2 separate regions of the Homo sapiens genome follow, and region 2 is linked to region 1. Evidence: fine-mapped expression QTL. A gene starts in region 1. The other region holds a variant in brackets. All regions are shown on one strand. Distances are between the middles of the regions.

What was found. PIP is the estimated chance that this variant, and not a neighbour inherited with it, causes the effect. A credible set is the group of variants that fine-mapping cannot tell apart.
Region 2: its variant is the best candidate, but not a certain one, in a credible set for the expression of CD5 in skeletal muscle (GTEx, PIP 0.84).

The regions. Positions count from the first base shown.
Region 1 is chr11:61,100,217-61,104,604 of GRCh38, reverse strand. CD5 (CD5 molecule) reads right to left here and starts at 2,116. Exons shown (of 11, transcript NM_014207.4): 1 at 1,990-2,116. The coding sequence starts at 2,044.
Region 2 is chr11:61,123,478-61,127,865 of GRCh38, reverse strand. It overlaps CD5 (CD5 molecule), which reads right to left. Exons shown (of 11, transcript NM_014207.4): 8 at 3,929-3,982; 9 at 2,715-2,834; 10 at 2,025-2,115; 11 at 14-1,578. The coding sequence ends at 2,027. Among named protein-coding and RNA genes, the nearest start is that of CD5, 23 kb to the right of the region's middle. The variant G/C (reference allele first, on the strand shown) is at 1,707.

The DNA of each region.
Region 1 (4,388 bases):
CTGGGGTGAAGGGGCTACCTCCAAGTCTTCCTGACTGTGGCCTGTGTTGGGCCAGGGGACTTGCCTGGTGCCATCAGGAGCCTCACCCATGATGGGATTCAGTTGGGAGGGCCCTAGAGCAGGACACGGGTTCCCATACTCAGCTGGGAGCCGCCCTATCTCAATGAAGTCTGAGGCCAGAGGTGAGGAGCAGGTGGGGGGTTTAAGGGCCTGGTCCCTCCTTAGCAGGGTCCCTGAAGCCAGCCAGAGGTCTGTCTCAGGCCTCTTACTTTGGGACAGAAGGCATTTTGTACCTGTTGTTGTTACATGTGAGAAGAACCATGTGAACATGTGTGCACAGGTGCCATTGTCACATGTGTTGGGGAGATAATCCTGCCTTTGGAGGCCGCATTGTGCTCATGAAAGCACACACACACAGTTCTCACACACATGCGCACAGACTCCCACACACAGACTCACACACAGACTCACACACAGACTCACACATTCCCCCCACACAGTACTCACACACATGCCCAGAGACTCACACACAGACTCACACACAGACTCACACATTCCCCCATACACAGTTCTCACACACATGAACACAGACTCACACACAGACTCACACGCACAGACTCACACTTTCCCCCCCACAAAATACTCACACACATGCCCAGAGACTCACACACAGAGTCACACATTCCCCCCCCACACACAGTACTCACACACATGCCCAGAGACTCACACACAGACTCACACACAGACTCACACATTCCCCCCCACACAGTACTCACACACATGCCCAGAGACTCACACACAGACTCACACATTCCCCCCCAGACAGTACTCACACACATGCCCAGAGACTCACACACAGACTCACACACAGACTCACACATTCCCCTACACACAGTACTCACACACATGCCCAGAGACTCACACACAGACTCACACACAGAGTCACACATTACCCCCCAACACAGTTCTCACACACGTACACACAGACTCACACAGACACACATAGACTCACACATTCCCCCACACACAGTTCTCACACACATGCACACAGACACACACACATGCATTCCCCCACACTCACACCTGCACACCCGGTTTCCCTAGAAGGCTGCTGAGGCTCCCTGCTCAGGCAGGCAAGGCCTCCGGACCCTCTCCCTGCCAGCCTGGAAGCTGCTCGCATCCTCCTGTTTCCAGCCCAGAGTCACGCACCTCTGTCACCCTGCCAGACCTTCTAAATCCTCAGGAAGTGGGTCAGGCCTCATCCAGTTCACACCCCCAACCCCCACATTTCATAAATGGGGAGATCAAGGCCTGGAGAGGCTTGGGGACCTATCCGAGGTCACACAGGGTTGGGCTTACAACCCAGGGCTGGAGTGAGAGCAGGCCCAGCGTGTACTCATCCCAGCCGGCCTGGCTGGGCCCCTCTGGGACTGACCCAGGACTGGGCATGAGAGGGCCTAGGACTTCCGCTATGAGTCCTTGACATTTGCTCAGACATCGTCCTCAGAGGCGGCTCCACCCTGCCTCGGCCCACTGTCTGTCCAGAGCATCATCAGAGCTGCCTCGGAGACGGCGAGTTTCCATGTCTCTGGAGGCGACCAAGTAAAGGCTGGGCTGTCAGTGGGGGACCTCGCAGAGGGAGGCCTGAATGCTCTGCTAAAATCCAACTCAGCCTAGGAATCAAGTTGTCTGGGCCCCATCAAATGCGGGTCCCCCCTGCAGTCTCTCTTGCACTGGAAGGGTAAAGCAGGGTTCTCAACAGCGCATGAGAGAGGCAAGGTTGTGCTCCTGGCGGGTGGGACATGCAGGACAGAGGGCCAAGCTGCGGCTTAGTGGGGGCAGGCAGGGATCCCAGTGGCCCCAAATCTCCACAACGCTCCAGAGGGCTGACATGTGGATCCCAGAGTCAGCCTTGGGTAAAACTGGGAACTCCTTCCTTGCACTGGAGCGAGCCCGGGTGTTCGCAGGACACCTGGGAGGGGTACTCACCCAGCATCCCCAGCAGGTACAAGGTGGCCAGCGGTTGCAGAGACCCCATGGGCATGGTTTCTGGCCTTCTCTTGCCTCAGCCTGGGCAGCTGGGCACCGCAGGTGAGGGTGTCTGGCCGGGTATCTCGCTCTCAGAGAGGGAGAGGGCGGGGTGGCGTGCTCAGGGAGGGGTGGGACGGGGAGCAGGCAGTGTGGGGCCTGCGTCACCCATGTTTGAAGTTGAACTGTCAACTTCCTCCTGGCAAAACCACCTGCCCCTGTTTGAATGGCAGCCCTGGCCTCTGCCAGCTTCCTGCCCAAGGTACCCAGGGCTGGGGCAGTGCTCTCGGCCACCCCCACACAGGACAAGGCCATGCATCCTGGAGGGACAGGGCTGCAGGGGGTGGGGACCCTGAGCGGGGGTTACGGAGGCTGAAGGCCTGGCTGCAGCTGAGGGCTGGGCTGAGGACAGGCGTCCCTGAGGCAGGGGTCTGGGTGGGGAGAGGCGGGAAATGGGCAGCATGATGCCAGTTCTTGTTGCAGACTCCAGTGAAAGCCAAAACCAAACCCTCCATTCCCCCTTTGTGAGGGATGAGGTTGGAAGTTTGAGCTGACTTTCCACAGGTGGTGTTTTGCTAGCAAGTACAAGAGATGGCTGCGCCATGAATGCTGGGCTTGTGCCAGTGTGTGTGTGTGTGTGTGTGTGTGTGTGTGTGTGTGTGTGTAGAGAGAGAGAGATCTCCATGTTGACTTGTGTGATCTCTGTGTTGTGTGTGTCATCTCTGTGTTGTGTGATCTCCATGTTGAGGTGTATGTGTGAGCTCCATGTTGAGTGTGTGTGATCTCCATGTTGATGTGTGTGTGAACTCCATGTTGATGTGTGTGTAATCTCCATGTTGACGTGTGTGATTTCTGTGTTGTGTGTGATCTCCATGTTGATGTGTGTGATTGTGATCGCCATGTTGATGTGTGTGTGATCTCCATGTTGATGTGTGTGTGTGATCTCCATGTTGATATGTGTGTGTGATTTCCATGTTGTGTGTTTGTGATTTCCATGTTGATGTGTGTGTATGATCTCCATGTTGACTTGTGTGATCTCTGTGTTGTGTGTGTGATCTCCATGTTGGGGTTGATGTGTGTGTAATCCCCATTTGATATATGTGTGTGTGATCTCCATGTTTGTGTGTGTGAATGTGATCTCCATGTTGATGTGTGTGAATGTGATCTCCATGTTGACGTGTGTGTGTGATCTCCATGTTGATGTGTGTGTGTGATCTCCATGTTGATGTGTGTGAATGTGATCTCCATGTTGATGTGTGTGTAATCTCCATGTTGATGTGTGTGTGTGATCTCCATGTTGATGTGTGTTTGTGATCTCCATGTTGATGTGTGTGAATGTGATCTCCATGTTGATGTGTGTGTGATCTCCATGTTGATGTGTGTGTGTGATCTCCATGTGGATGAGTGTGTGATCTCCATGTTGATGTGTGTGTAATCTCCATGTTGATGTGTGTGTGTGATCTCCATGTTGTGTGTGTGTGATCTCCATGTTGATGTGTGCGAATGTGATCTCCATGTTGATGTGTGTGTAATCTCCATGTTGATGTGTGTGTGTGATCTCCATGTTGATGTGTGTGTGTGATCTCCATGTTGATGTGTGTGAATGTGATCTCCATGTTGATGTGTGTGTAATCTCCATGTTGATGTGTGTGTGTGATCTCCATGTTGATGTGTGTGTGATCTCCATGTTGATGTGTGTGTGATCTCCATGTTGATGTGTGTGAATGTGATCTCCATGTTGATGTGTGTGTAATCTCCATGTTGATGTGTGTGTGTGATCTCCATGTTGATGTGTGTTTGTGATCTCCATGTTGATGTGTGTGAATGTGATCTCCATGTTGATGTGTGTGTGTGATCTCCATGTTGATGTGTGTTTGTGATCTCCATGTTGATGTGTGTGAATGTGATCTCCATGTTGATGTGTGTGTAATCTCCATGTTGATGTGTGTGTGTGATCTCCATGTTGTGTGTGTGATCTCCATGTTGATGTGTGTGTGATCTCCATGTTGATGTGTGTGTGTGATCTCCATGTTTATGTGTGTGAATGTGATCTCCATGTTGATATGTGTGAATGTGATCTCCATGTTGTGTGTGTAATCTCCATGTTGATGTGTGTGTGTAATCTCCATGTTGTGTGTGTGTGATCTCCATGTTGATGTGTGTGAATGTGATCTCCATGTTGATGTGTGTGTGTGATCTCCATGTTGATGTGTGTGAGTGATCTCCATGTTGATGTGTGTGTGTGATCTCCATGTCGTGTGTGTGTGATCTCCATGTTGATGTATGTGTGATCTCCATGTTGATGTGTGTGTGATCTCCATGTTGATGTGTGTGTGTGATCTCCATGTTGTGTGTGTGTG
Region 2 (4,388 bases), 23 kb before region 1:
TTCTAAAGGCTCATTTCTCCTCAACTAAACTCTTTATTTTTGGTTTGGTTTTTAAGTAGGCCATGGTTGCTTTGAGGCCACTGTATGGTGGCCAAACTATAGATGAAAGAGCTTTTATTAAAAAAGGCACTGATGGGAGACACTGGCTGCCCCCGAACCTTTGCCCTCCCTAAGAGCAGCCTCTCAGTTCCCTTTTGAGGAGCCCCCTCACCTCCACCAGATATGGGAAGACAAATGGGGTCCCTGTTTCTGGATTCCCAGCATGGTCGGGGGAAGATCTGTGACCTGGGCTTGGCCACGGGGGCTCTCAGAAGGCAAGGCCTGGTTGGAGGGTGTTGGTGGGGGCAGAAAGCTGAGCAGATTCTGGGAGCAGCCCACCCCATATCCTAGTAACTCCCTTTTGCTCTTCCAGACTTATTATGCGGCTTGGACCATTGATGCCTGTGCTCCCAGGAGATACAGCATCAAATGGCGTGGAGAAAGGACCTGTCTTAGGATGTGTTCCCATGTTGCTTCACCTTCTTAGGGAGCCGCCGCAGTGAGCTGCGCCTGGCCTCTCCCTTGATCAGACCCGAGGCTCCTGGGTAGACCTCCTCTTCTCACTTGCAGTTAAGGAAGCCGAGGCCCCATGGGATTAGGTGTACGTCCAAGATCTCCAAGTACTAGAGGAGTCTGTTTTCGTCAAGGGAGTTATTCAAACCAAAGGAACATGACCAGCCCCATCTCTGACTCTTGGGTTAGAAGATGAACTGTGATGGACTGAAACTACCTCAGCTTGGGACTTTTAATTGCTGGGTGAAGCAAAAAACCAAGTTGGTTAAGGTTTACTAGGCGCCCCTTTGTGCCGGGCCCTGGGTGGCACTGGTGCCCTGTGGGCTTGACAGCCAGTGGAAAGGAAGGTGTCTTTAGATGAGGGGGTTGGGGAGGGGAGTCATAAGACAGAGGGAGTGGGGTGACGCTGTGGGTCAGGGTGGTGCCCACCCAGACCCCTGGCTGGCAGCTGCGGTGAATGTGCAGAGCTGTCTTTGTGCTCAGGTGAGCAGCCTCTGACCACCACGGCTGCAGAGGTCTCCGGGAGTCCCCTTCCTGTCCTCCCCAGAGGGATCCGCAGGGGTGGATGCTGCACAGAAGAGGCCAAAGCGCTCGATTTGTCAGGAAGGAGGAAAAGCACTACTTACAAAAAACTATTCAAAATGCACTCGCCCAGCTGTGAGCTTCCTTGTCACTCCTTACCAGGGACAGAGTCTGAGGAGAAAGCCGATTTCACTGAGACGCCGCTCCCCAGCGGGCAGGGAAAGGGGGCCCCCTTCAGACACCCCCGAGTCTCTAGTTGGAAGGCTGCTTGTTTTGGGGCTCTGCCCACCACAGCTTCCACAAGTGGAGGGGCGGCCGAGCTGTTGTGCAGCAGAGTGTGAGCTGGCCTGCCACTCGGGGCAGCAGCGCCTGTCCGGAAGGCTTCTGGCCTCTGTCCATGTTCTGGCCGGGGTAGAAATAGGGACATGATTTCAAGTGAAGAGCGGACAGTTTTCTCAGGACAAACAGGTCTGGCTCTCGGCTTTTTGCTCATGGATCCCAGTTCTGTGGGGTGAGAAGGAAACGTGTTAGAGGAAGACACCGCAGAGGTGATGCAGGGAGGTCGGGGACAGGACCCATGCTCTGGGCTCCATCTTGGGGACGGCTGCTGTCCTGAGCCAGGGGCTCCTTCT[G/C]CCCGCTGGCAGGTTGGCAGCTCTAGAGGGGTGTGACTCCATCACGGAGCTCTTAGGGACTCTGCCTGTGTGGCCTTCCGAATGGAGTTTAAGAGTTGATTGTTAAAGTTCATGATTGCTCTGCTCTAATTGTCAAATCAGCTCGTATAACCTAAACAGCTGACGTTTGTCTTTCCCTTTACAAGAATCAAGATGCTGGGGGTCCCCTATTCATGTATGGGCAGGGTGGGACTGAGGGGAGGCATTGAGTGGCTGCTGCTCACCCCCAGGACTGTGGGGGACCCTGGGGTGCTGGGGTCAGGCTGGAGACGGGCTCACCTTTACAGCCTCTGAGCCCCATGCAGATCATAGTCACTGTCGGAGGAGTTGTCAGGCTGCATGGAGGAGCGATGCAGAGCCCCTTCCAGAGCTGGGGAAAGAAAGGACGCTGTTTGCAGAGGGTTTTTGACTCCACAGAGCCCCTTGGATCCTAGAGCCGCTGCCCACAGTGGGTTGGAAGATCACAGGGGCTTTATGAGCCGGTGACAACCCCTTATCTGTTTTGATCAAATCAGCCAAACGTTCACTAATGATGCTGAACTCCAGGCTCCCTGGGGCTTAATTGGTAGTGCCAGTCTGGGAGCCTTTAGTACAGCGCTCCTGCAGCCCACTTAATGGCTCTCTTCTAGCCCGGAGGAATCCAAGGGGCCTCATTTACCATCCAGGCCCCTCAAGGCCCTGAAGGGAAACAGGCCCATTAGGTCACAGCAAGGCTGGGGTTGATGGCTTTCTGAGTGCATTCTTCTCTCCAGATGAGTAGTTTGTGGTCTCAAACGGGACAGCTGGGGCCTGCAAAGGCTATATCCCTTCCGTACCCCTGCTGCATCCTGCGATGTTTGATCCCCTTGCACCCTGGGGTCTCCATTCTGTCTTTGGGCCATCACCCGACCTTCAAGGGCATCACGTGACCTGCCTTGGCGGCCTGCTGCAGCCCTGCCTGCGTGCCTGGGAGCACCCGCTGGTGCTTACCTGGATAAGCTGACAGGTGGGAGTTCCTGGGAGGTTGGCTGTATTCGTTATCCACGTGGGAGGCTGTGGGGTTCTCAGCATGGGATCGGACGGTTGCCGTGTGGTTGCGATGGAAAGACACTGGGCAGATGGTAGGAGACAGTGTCAGACTTGTGGCTGTGTCCTCCGTCTCCTTCCCCAGCAGGTGCCCAGAACTTTAATCTCCTATTCCCATGATGTTAGCGGGGAGAGGACAAAGGCACCCACAGCCCCTTCAATGCATCCCCCTCTCCTTTCTTCCTGGGAGGTTCATGCTAGCAGGATCAGCAGCAGACTTTTAGAGCAGGTTTGGGTAACCCAGCAATCTGACTGGCAGGGTGGGGCCTTCCGTGAGTCGGTCATCAAGCATTTACCAAGCAGGAGACTGGAGCACAGGTGACGGGACAGATCTGCTCCCTGCCCTCCAGGAGCTGAGGGCCTGTATGTTATTAAGAAAGTTTCCAGAGCCTTTCTTAATAACAAATTCAACAGAGCCCTCTTGAAGGATTTGGCTGTGGACTTGGGAAGGGGGAAGAAGGCAGAATGGGAGGCAGGAAGAGCGCCATGTCTCCATCCATTAGGGTGTCTCTGACTGTGGCTGGAAGGAGGGAGGATGAAGACCAGGGATGGTGTTGGGCTGGCTGCACCAAAATGTCCTAATACTGGCCCTGTAAGTTGTTCCATGATGAAAATAACTTGGACAGCCCTTCTTAATGGATCCTTGCTTTGGAGATGGGCAATACAAAAATGCCCATTAAGGTTCTGATAAGTCCTGAAATAGCTATGCTTAGCTGTGCCTAACTCATGGTTTTCCAGATCTGTTGATCAGGGAGGCCTCTTGTGAGTGCTGCCTGTTAACATCCACTGGCTACTGTGTTGGGGAATACTGCTGGAGGAGGTGAGGGCTGCTGGGGACCCTAGAGATGGGGCGAGGGACAGAAAGGATACCATGAGATGTTTCTACACTCTGAGGCTTCAGCGGTAGAAACCGCTCAGCCATCAGCCCATCAAGAAGCCTCCGCCCTCCCTGGTGTGGGGACGTCTGTTGGCCACAGTCACATGTCAGACAAGCACCGTGGAGATCAGAGGCTTCAAGCAGCCACAGGCTCCGTCTGTGGTCAGCAGAGAGCCTCGACTCTGCCTCCATGGCCTCTGTCCAGGGCCTGAGGGAGGCTCCTGCCTCCGGGGACACTTACTGTTTTGGTTCATTCCCGTTGGGCCAATCCACTGGCGCTGCTTCTTCTGGCGGACTGGGCAAGAGACAAGAAAGGCACATCAGAGTGGTGGGGGCAGGTATGGGTGGGGGCAGGCAGGGGTGGGGATGGGGCTGGGCCTGGGAGGGAGATGGTGGCGGCAGGTGCAGCTGAGGGCAGGGCTGCTGGGCTCTGCCCCCTGGAGTCTCTCGTAGGCCTCAGTTTCCTAACTTGCTCGGGAAGGGAATTGCAGCCATCCTGTGCCGAAGGAGCAGGCCGAGGATGGTGTAGAGGTGCCCGGCTCCCCAGGAGAAAAGACCACAGGCGTTTAGAACTAGACCTGGGCAGGCACTAGGACCTAACACTGTCCTGCTGGGCCCTCTGTTCCCAATCTCTCCCCTCTCACTTCTTTGTCTGAATAATTTCCTCTTAAGTTCTGCAAGGCAAGGAGAACAACCCCCCG